2 separate regions of the Homo sapiens genome follow, and region 1 is linked to region 2. Evidence: fine-mapped expression QTL. A gene starts in region 2. The other region holds a variant in brackets. All regions are shown on one strand. Distances are from middle to middle. Region 1 has its middle 23 kb from the start of TCF23. Region 2 holds the start of ATRAID (all-trans retinoic acid induced differentiation factor).

What was found.
Region 1: its variant is fine-mapped to the expression of ATRAID in prefrontal cortex (BrainSeq, PIP 0.95).

What each region holds. Positions count from the first base shown.
Region 1 is chr2:27,169,200-27,174,574 of GRCh38, forward strand. No RefSeq gene overlaps it. Among named protein-coding and RNA genes, the nearest start is that of TCF23, 23 kb to the left of the region's middle. RefSeq lists a silencer at 817-866 and an enhancer at 2,322-2,616. The variant CT/C (reference allele first, on the strand shown) is at 2,122.
Region 2 is chr2:27,208,897-27,214,271 of GRCh38, forward strand. ATRAID (all-trans retinoic acid induced differentiation factor) reads left to right here and starts at 3,145. Exons shown (of 7, transcript NM_001170795.4): 1 at 3,145-3,571; 2 at 4,281-4,402. The coding sequence starts at 3,473. SLC5A6 (solute carrier family 5 member 6) reads right to left here and starts at 3,372. Exons shown (of 17, transcript NM_021095.4): 1 at 3,124-3,372; 2 at 2,571-2,637. RefSeq lists enhancers at 1,215-1,274, 1,229-2,026 and silencers at 2,809-3,128, 3,319-3,568.

The DNA.
Region 1 (5,375 bases), 40 kb before region 2:
CTGATAATTCAGTAGTAAATGGCTAAATGGGTTAGAAACACAGTTTTTTTGTTTTTGTTTTTGTTTTTTTAAAGAGACAGAGTCTCTCTGCGTCACTCAGGTTGGAGTGCAGTGGCACCATCATAGGTCACTGCAACCTCGACCTCCTGGGCTCAAGGGATCCTCCTGCCTCAGTCTCCCAAAGTGCAGGGATTACAGGCGGGAGCCACCTCATCTGGCCTTGGTCAGGCACTTTCTAAAGAGGATATCCAAATGGCTGAACATGCTCAACTTCATTAGTTATTAGAAAAATGCAAATTGAAATCTTGAGATACTACAACACACCCACCAGAATGGTTAATATCTGTATCTGTTAAATCCAGGGTATAAACACACCTAAGGCCGGGCGCTTTGGCTCACGCCTGTAATCCCAGCATTTTGGGAGGCCTAGGCGGGCGGATCACCTGAGGTCAGGAGTTCTAGATCAGCCTGGCCAACATGGAGAAACCCCGTCTCTACTAAAAATACAAAAAAATAAGCCGGGCGTGGTGGTGCACGCCTGTAGTCCCAGCTACTCAGGAGGTTGAGGCAGGAGAATCGCTTGAGCCTGGGAGGCAGAGGTTGCAGTGAGCTGAGATTGCGCCACTGCACTCCAACCTGGGCGACAGAGTGAGACTCCGTCTCAAAAAAAAAAAAAAAAAAAAAAGATATGCATGAGAGCGCTCATAACAGCGTTATTTGTAATAGCCCCAAGCTGGAACCCTGCTTTTGTTTCCTATGGCGCTGGGGCTGAGGTTCTGCAAACCACTTTCTGCTTTGCCAGCTGGCACTTCGCTGGGCTCCACCAATAGAGGGTGCTAGAGGAAGCCCGCAAGACGGGAGGAGGGAGCGGGGATTTGCTTCTTGCAGTTTACTTCTTGCGCCCCCCTATCAAGGTGGCAACAGCTCTTTAACCCGGCAGCCCCACTTGGTTTAAGTTTCCAACTTTTTCCCCATTCTCAGAACCACCCTTGGCTGGGCGCGGTGGCTAGCGCCTGTAATCCCGGCACTTTGGGAGGCTGAGGCGGGTGGATCACTTGAGGTCAGGAGTTGGAGACCAGCCTGGAGACCACAACGAAACCCTGTCTCTACTAAAAATACAAAAATAAGCAGGACGTGGTGACACGTGCCTGTCATCCCAGCTACTCAGGAAACTGAGGCAGGAGAATCGCTTGAACCTGGGAGGCAGAGGTCGCAGTGAGCCAAGATTGTACCAAAGCACTCCAACCTGGGCAACAGAGCGAAACTCCGTCTCAATTAAAAAAAAAAAAAAAGTACAAGCCTTTAGCCTGCCCCTTCAAAGATGCCAGCACCAGTTATACAGCACTCTGTGTTCTGAAGCCTGAGTTCCACCTCGGCAGGGCTCCTCCAAGCTTCTAGGTTCCAGTAACTCCCACCTTTTTCTTTCATTAACTCCACCGCTCTACGTCCTTCAGTTGCCACCTCTCTGTTCCTTGGAATTTGTCTTTTGCCTTTGCAGTCCTTACCGTTAAATTCCCTCTGTTATAATAACTGGTGTGGTTTTTATGTTCCTAATTGGACCCTGACTCATACAACAGCCCAGATAAGATTCTTTTGGCGTCTGACCTGTTTCTGGACTACATACAGTATTACTTCCCTTTTCTTATTTTTATTTTTATTTTGAGAGGGGGGTCTCGCTCTGTCACCCAGGCTGGAGTGTAGTGGCACAATCAGCTCACTGCAGCCTCAAACTCCTAAACTCAAGGGATCCTCCCACCTCAGCCTCCCAAGTAGCTGGTACTACAGGTGCGTGCCACCATGCCCAGTTATTTCCCTTTTAAGTAGGGAATCTGAGGGCTGCAATAGTTTGCAGATCCTCACAGCCTTGCTTGGTTGATTGTCCTTGGCATCTTGGCATGGTTACAGAAACAAATCAGAGCCAAAGAAAGCTGAGAGTCTTGGGTGTGACTGTTTGCCATGGGACAGCTAGGGTCAGGCCAATCTTTATGAACATGGTACTTGCTGGACTTTTTTTTCTCTCCTGTGAATGTGCATGGGAACAGTAGTGTCTTTCCTATAGTCTTCATGACCCTCCCCAGTTGCTGGAGCAACTGAACTTGAAAATTTCCAGCTCCAGAGGCA[CT/C]TTTTTTTTTTTTTTTTTTTTGAGACGAGGTGTTGCTCTGTTGCCCCCAAGGCACAATCACAGCTCACTGCAGACTTAACCTCCCAGGCTCAAGTGATCCTCCCACGTTAGTCTCCTGAGTAGCTGGAACTACAGGGGCACCACCATGCCCAGTTGATTTTTTATTTTTTAATTTTTTTGTAGAGACGGAATCTCACTATATTGCTTAGGCTGGTCTCGAACTCCTAGGCTCAAGGGATCCTCCCTCCTCGGTCTCCCAACGTGTTGGGACTACAGGCGTGAGCCAATGCACCTGGCTCAGAGGCACCTTGTTGTTACTATGGCACCATTGTGTCTGTGTGCGTTTAATGACATCATTGCAAGGGCTGATTCTTTAACCAGATTGTAAACATGTGTGCAAAAGTTGCCCCGCAAATTAACAGGAAAGTTGTGCAATTTGCAAGCAGAGCAGCATGACCTAAGGCCTTGATGGGCCATGATCTTTCAGTGTCCTTCCCCTGGCAGGTGGGTAGCAAACATTATGAATTATCATAAACCCAGTCCATCCTCCCCACCCAAAAAAAACGCCTCGTGATATATAATTTTCCTAACCGGGTTAAGTACATGATTCCTACCATTTAAATCTATGTCTAAATAAAGCAGAAGAACACAAACTGCTTATTTTAAAATCTATTTTTATTTATTCTTAGAGCCAGAATATTTTCTTAAGATTTTCGTAGTGTATAAATTCTAGATTTTGCCAGGCTTTTGGTTCTGCCCAGAGGCACTAGATTGGGCAGAAATGGATAGAAATTTCCTCTGTCTCCACTCAGATGCATGTTTTTGTCACCCCAGTTGTATTCAGTGAGCTTGTTTTCTGATTTATTTTTTTAAGTGGGACCCATTCATTTCCATTAAGGCCCTCATGAATACTATCCAGGCTGGGGCTTGGCTGTGCCTATCTTGGGGCAGAGTAGTCTCTATTATCCAGAAGATCTCCTGGCTTGATGTCTTATCTTTGCATTGTCAAATGTATTCAGCAGGCATTCATGTTATACCTGCGACAGCGGTACATCATGTCACTTCCAGATCTGGACCAGATAACTCCTGGGATCCTGGTTGTGTAGCCTGGCTATCATATCTCCCTCAGGAAAAACTAGTGTTATCAGCTCCCTTTCTTGCTTCTTTTAAGGACCTACATGGATTTTTCTGAAGTGCCACTGCACAATGCTTCCTCTTTCCAATACCTGTTAGATCTGAAAGGGGAATTGAGTCTCCCGTGGGTGCTGGGGTATGGCTGAGGGGTAGGTGTGGTCTGCAGGGCACCACGTGCAGCTTGTCTGTAGGCTCCATTAAAGACCAGTCAGGGCTGAGCACAGTGGCTCACGCCTGTAATCCCAGCACTTTGGGAGGCCGAGGCGGGCAGATCGGCGGGCAGATCACAAGATCAGGCATTCGAGACCAGCCTGGCCAACATGGTGAAATGTCGTCTCTACTAAAAATACAAAAATTAGCCAAGCGTGGTGGCACGTGCCTGTAGCCCCAGCTATTCGGGAAGCTGAGGCAGGAGAATCACTTGAAACTGGAAGGCAGAAGTTGCAGTGAGCCAAGATCACGCCACTACACTCCAGCCTGGGTGAAAGAGTGAAACTCCAACTCAAAAAAAAAACAAAAAAACACCAGTCAGATGTGCAGGGATGGGAAGATGCTGGCCTGCATGTACTCTTCATCCCCTACCTTTCCTGACATCCTCACAGGAGCCATGGAACAGCCAGAGTGAACATTCTAGCGGTGCCTCAGGCCACGCCTTCTCTCAAGATCCATATGCCACTTTCTTTTTTATGCCCCTGAGCATGAACGCAAGGATCACAGTGGAGACAACTTTTCCTCTCCTGGAAGTCTGGGACAAAGGCTGCAAGCCTCAGGTTCCCTGAGGGAACTCACCTGGCAGGCCTCCGTGGAGTCCCCTGAGAGGGAACTCCAAGGGGCTGCCCCACCACTCGCTGTATCTTGGGAGGGTCCCCCATGCTGCCACACAGACAAGAGGAGGGACTGCTCTGACTGATTCATGAGCTCCCCAGTGCATCCACTCAGGGAGACCCCTTCCCCAGACAGTGGAGGGTCATGACGGGGCAGCTTTTTAGCTGCGTCCCACCAGGATGAAACATTCATCTTCCAATTCCTGGTGTTTCACCCTGGTCCAAGAGACCCTGGCTGCCTGTTCTGAATGGGAATATCCCATCGTTAGTAAGTTAGAGAAAACTACAATCCATTTAAATGACTCAATAATCTGCAGAAGGAAAACTAAACCGAACAACTCAAACAAGTGGTTTTTAATGAGACCGAACCAAAAGAAGTAACGGAAATGTTTTTTAGCATCAACACAAAACTGTACAAGAAATTAACACACTATAAGATTTTCCTCCCCTTCTAGCAATAATATCTCAATGTCCTCTCCCAGCTAAGTCCGTGTGGTTTGAGAGGGACGAACTGCACCCCAGATCTCGATTTAGACACGACCCCATTTATGCCAAGGAGAGTCAAACCCAGGATTTTGTGGGCGTGGAAGTAAGTGTCCATCCGACTCCTCATTGCTGCTTTTCAATGATTTCTTCTCCCTTCTATTTCAAAAACACCAGGGGCTTTAGAGTTTGTACCCTCTGGTTTGTCCCCCAATATCCTTTGTTGGTGGCAACTTCTACTAAATTCTGAGTCATTCCCTGTCTTTCATTGAAGATTTTATCATCTGACTGTCTTTCTCTCTATCCTATTCTTGTCATCATTTTTTTGGTTTCAACACTCAAATGGATGATTTATCCAACATCTTGGCATCTTAGATTCTGACCTCCTCAAATGCAATTTTCTATTTTCTCTCTTCAGCCACCCATTTCTATGGTCATGCCCTTAACCTTGTCAAAACCAATAATACACCATTCTCAGAATCTCTATTTTAAGCATTCTGATTGGATATTGTGATCCCTATGTCTTATCCTTCCATCTCAGTCTCATGCCTGCAGTCCAGTATTTCTTCAGTCTTCTTGAGACCTTTAATTCATTTGCTTCCTTCTGTCTTACTAACCATCTTCCCTCGTGTCCTTACTTCCTCTTTATTCATCCCAGATTCTATGTTCATTGTTGTAATTGCTCCTTTGCAAATATCCTTATCCCTTACCCCTCCTCTCCCACTGTTTTTGCGTTGCAACATCCCGACCCTGCACGGTCTTCCCACTCTACACTTCATCTGAACACTGCTGGAAATGAATACACGATTGTG
Region 2 (5,375 bases):
CTTGGCACTCTGTGCGGGAGGGAGTTGGAAAGAAGGAACTGAAAACATGGGAAAGTTGAAAGTTGATTTTCTAACTCCTGCACAAGAAATGTTAATCCCCCAAGAATACACCACAATCCTCAGAGAAAGAGGGAAGGGATCATAATATTTAAAATCTTAAATCTTTGGACACCACTATTACAACCAACCCCCCACCACTGACGATTTCACAGATAAACACGCTAAGGCTCAGATGGTTCAAGTGACCTTTCCAAAAGCACAGAGCCGACTATTGTCAGAGCATAAATTAGAACCCAGGTCTAGGGATTCACCATCCACCCTGTCTGTTCTCCAAGCGTATCATATTGTCTTCAAAGGCAATCCTCTGGGGTACTTATTGGTATGAGGAAAAAACACCAGAGAATGCCATGTAGTTACACAGCCTAACATGACGACAGTTAACATTTGCTGAACACCTGCTATGTAACCCAGCAGTGTGTGAGGTGCTTTATAAACATTAGTAATAATACATAATGAAGCTAACATTTTCAAAACAGCATGTCTCAGATTAAGACACGAATACTCTCCAGTTAACACAAGAAAACTGAGAGATTAAATAACTTGCTCAAGGTTATGCAGCATGATACAAAACAAGAGAGAGAGAAACAGTGCTGTCTGCAGCTATGACAGGTGTTCAGCAAGGGCCCTGTCCTCACTATTCCCAGAACCAGGACAGGAGCAGAGTGTTGCAGTCAGTCATTCACAGGACATAGTTTAGATTTCAACTAATCAAGAGACAGACTAACATAAACTATGTCTTCTGCTTTTGCCCACTAGGAGAAAGATTAGGCTGCCTTTCCGCTCTCCCACAGTGTGTTCTTGGGCAGACACTGGCTGGCTGGCAAGATATGGCCTCATGCAGACTAAACCTGAACTCTGAACCTCTTGGGGCCAATAAAGAGGGAAAATCAGACCTGGCAACTCTTGGATCACATGTTCTACAAGATTCCCAACAGGCTTAAACTCTGGTTTAACCTAAACATGCCCTGGGCCTTTGCACATTGCAACACCCTGAGTTTTCTCATTCGTCTTTGGCAAGTTTTTACTGCTATGATAGAGATGATGGGAACTACTGGGGAGTAAGAGGAAAGAAGAGGTCTCCTGTGTGCAAAGAACACAGAACAAAGAACTAACTATAGGGTTAGTGGTTTAGAGAGGTAGGTGGCCAGAGACAGGAAGGAAAGTCCCAGTATGGGACACGGAGGTACAGAAATAAAGACACTCTGCTGATGGGACTTCCTGATAAAATTCTATTTGCATGATGTATGGAGAATTCCCCTGGATGGCCTGAGAGAGCCCCAGGGAAGACAGGAAAAACCTGACCTAGCAACAGACCAGATTCTGAGAACAGATCTGTAGTTTTCTAAACACCCTACATTGATCCAAACGCTATGGTCTCGCATCTCTCCAGAAAGAGGGCGGCCAAAAGCAAGAGCTAGCTGTTGTTTCACTACAACTATAACATGCCAAGGCACAAACAGCAGATTGTGGGACCCCCCCCCCTTTTTTTTTGGAGACGGAGTCTCGCTCTGTCGCCCAGGCTGGAGTGCAGTGACACGATCTCGGCTCACTGCAACCTCCACCTCCTGGGTTCAAGTGATTCTTCTGCCTCAGCCTCCTGAGTAGCTGGGACTACAGGCATGTGCTACCGCGCCCAGCTAATTTTTTTTTTTTTTTTTTGTATTTTTAGTAGAGACGAGATTTCACCATATTGGCCAGGCTGGTCTCAAAACTCCTGACATGACGATCCACCTGCCTTGGCGGATCGGTGGCCTGGCCACCGCGCCAGGCCAAGTTCAGGTTTTTAAAAGGGGTCCCACATCACTGCCTGTAATCCCAGCACTTTGGGAGGCCGAGGCGGGCAGATCACGAGGTCAGGAGATCGAGACCATCCTGGCTAACACGGTGAAACCCCGTCTCTACTAAAAAATACAAAAAATTAGCCAGGCGTGGTGGCAGGCGCCTGTAGTCCCAGCTACTCGGGAGGTTGAGGCAGGAGAATGGCGTGAACCCGCGAGGCGGAGCTTGCAGTGAGCCGAGATCGCGCCACTGCACTCCAGCCTGGGCGACAGAGCGAGACTCCGTCTCAAAATAAAAATAAAAATAAAAATAAAAACCTGAACTCACTTTGGTCACACACTGCAGTGGATCGCATTGACTCCTACAAAAGGCAATGAGACCACTGCAGGACTAACTGTTCCAAAAAGATTCCCTCAAAATCTGTCCTGGGGCCTATAATTCCTCAAGGTGTGAAAGGCTTTGGGGGCCCTCCTTAAAATGCTAATAGCTACTAACACCTTAGAAAATTTGCCAGCCAGCTAAACGTAAACCTTTCAGGAACTTCCAGGCAGACACCATGGGGGTAATGTGGAAGGGAAGCCTGGCTCGGCTACTCGAGATGATCACTTGGGTCGGCTTTAAGGAGCTTTCTGGCTGGCCCTAACCAACACTGTCGCGCCGGGAGCAGGGATCCCCTGGCGCCCTTCAGTCAGGGCGCTGGCCCACCCTGGGGCAGCAACGCACTCCCTTACCTCCGTGGTTCAGTCAGAGCTAGGAAGGTCCCTTTGTGCTTCCTGAGATCAACATCGCTCCCTTTTCCTGGGAAGGCAAAGAAAATGAGTTAGGGAAGCGTCTATCCCGCTCCTACCTCCTCGCCAGGCTCCGGGACGCTATGCGCTATCAGCATTGAGGTGAAGAGGACTAGGTGCCCGGGGCGATCCAGGCTCGTGTCCTCCCGCTGGAGTTTGAGGTTTGCCCTTCCCTCATCACCCTCACCCTCGTTCTTTCTCGGTTTCCCGCTTCCCTCTACGCGGCGGAGACCACCACCTTACCGCTCGCACTTAAGATCTCAGACCCACGCCGGAGGCCGGCTCGCTCCGCCCCTCCCCGCCCCCTTGTCCCCGCCCCGGCTCAGACGCCGCTCCCCGGTGCCTCTCGGCACCGGCTCACGCTCTCCAGGCCCACCTGCCCGGTCTCCACACGTGGGTAGCCAGAGCCCGGCCGAGAGCCCTGGCCGGGAGCCCGCGGGGGCCCCGCCCCCTGCCCGCCCCCTGCCCGCCCCGCTCGCCGTGCCGCCATGTTTACTGAGGGCGGATGGAGGGGCCCGAGTTTCTGCGAAGCCGCGACCTCGGCGTCCGGACGCGGGGAACACCGGGCTGAGGGAGTCTGCAGTCGGCTCCGGGAAGCCGCGCGGCGACGGGGGAGGCCTTCACTAAAGGGGAAAAGGAAGAGGGGGTCGGCCAGTATCCCCGAAAGAGGGCTAGGGCGCATGAAGACCAGCGCAGAGCTCCACGAGCAGGAAAAGCCCCCAAGCAGCCCCAGGGCGACTGGACCGGGCCGCTTAGGCCACGCCCGGGGAAGAGGGCCTGACGCGCTGCGGGGCGGGGCCGCGGGGCCGGGTCGCGCGAGCAGCGGAGCACCAAGGGAACGGAAAATGGCGCCTCACGACCCGGGTAGTCTTACGACCCTGGTGCCCTGGGCTGCCGCCCTGCTCCTCGCTCTGGGCGTGGAAAGGGCTCTGGCGCTACCCGAGGTACAGAAGCAAGTTTGAGGTCGGGCTGAAGCAGGGTCGCTGGCCAGCCGTGCGTCGCGCTCGCCAGCGGCTCCCCCTTCTCCTCGGCGGGCCTGCGGTTCTGATTTCGTCCCTGACGCTTCCCGACCCTGCCCAGCCAGGTCCTGTTCCCAAGTACTCACGTCGTGCAGGCCTTCGGCGCCCCAGTCCTGCCGACTTTCAAAGACCTGTGAAACTTGATTTCGCCCCTTAATTTTAGAATAACTTTAAGTTCTTTCTACAGACGGGTCCTCTGCCTCTTGTGTAATCTCTCTACGCACGAACGCCATATATCGTGCGGTGGTAGGGCTGTACTTTTGTAATGCTTGATGAGTTCTTTACGTACCTGCGGTCGTTTTACACCGCGCCAAACTAGGGCTGTCAGATTGAGAAGTCTCTGCAGAAAGCATAATAAATAAGTTCGAATAGTGATCTTCAGAGATGAGGACCTTCCCTGTGCGATATCTGGTACTGAAAGTGTCGGGAGCTGATTCGGCGCAGGACTCTGGAGGAAGAGATGGCATCTCCTAGCCTAGCCTGTTACAAGGGTGGGACACGAGCCGTTTATCCATTTATCGGCCCCGTGTTAGAGGAATTCTGGAAACGTGTACTGGCAGTTAATTCTTGATCGCCGTTTGTTCTTTTCTTGGCTTTTCTTTCTGGAGTTCTAATGTTTCTTTCTCTTCTGCAGATATGCACCCAATGTCCAGGGAGCGTGCAAAATTTGTCAAAAGTGGCCTTTTATTGTAAAACGACACGAGAGCTAATGCTGCATGCCCGTTGCTGCCTGAATCAGAAGGGCACCATCTTGGGGTGAGGGGAAGACATCCCTAGATGCTGGATACAGGCCATTCCTTAGCCTGGCTGCTTTTATACCCTTATATTATTTAAAGAATCCACCTATTATGGTTTCAGCTGTAATCATCACGCAGATGTCTACCAAAACTAGATCTCTTTAGTGTCTTTTTTAACCTTTCCACACTCCAGGTACATACGGGTACCTCTAGCTTCCTATTAAGCATTTCCTACTGAGTGCACCCTAACTTCAAACTCAAAATGTTATGTTTTGCTTCCATTCTCTTCTTTCCTTCATCTACCTAAATACTTCTCTGTATTAAGCTTTTAGAAAACCAACATTTTCCATTATCACTCTCTTGCTTTAATACTATATTTAGTATTAAATTTTGTCTCAGGACAAAATTCAAACCATTAAGTACCATACTAGTCCCAACCCACTTTTCCAACATTATTTCCAATTACTTGTCCGCTCAAACCTCCATAATGGTCTGCACCAGCCAGATTTGCCTGCCCTCAAAGGCATTCCACCTTTGTTCAGGCCTCTCTCCATACCTGAAATTGCCTTCCTCTACCAAATTAGGAAATATCCATCCTTCAATTCCAACATCTTTTGTGAATATTTACTACTACTAAGTTCCAGAGTAATACCTTTTTTAAATTATTATTTATTTATTTTTTTGAGACGGAGTTTCACTCTTGTTGCCCAGGCTGGAATGCAATGGCATGATCTCGGCTCACCGCGCCCTCCACCTCCTGGGTTCAAGCGATTCAGTAATACCTTTTTTAAAAACTTCCTGTAATCTTTAGTGTCCACTCAAATATATTTATACACTGTCCTGTGGTTTCTTTTATATTGTAATTTAATGTTTACAGTGCTTTTATTTTTGGGCAGTGCTCTTGTTCCTCTAACTACATTGTAAGCCACTCAAAGGCCAAAATACTGTGTTACATATTTTTAACATTCTCCCAGTGTTTGCAGTTTGTAGGG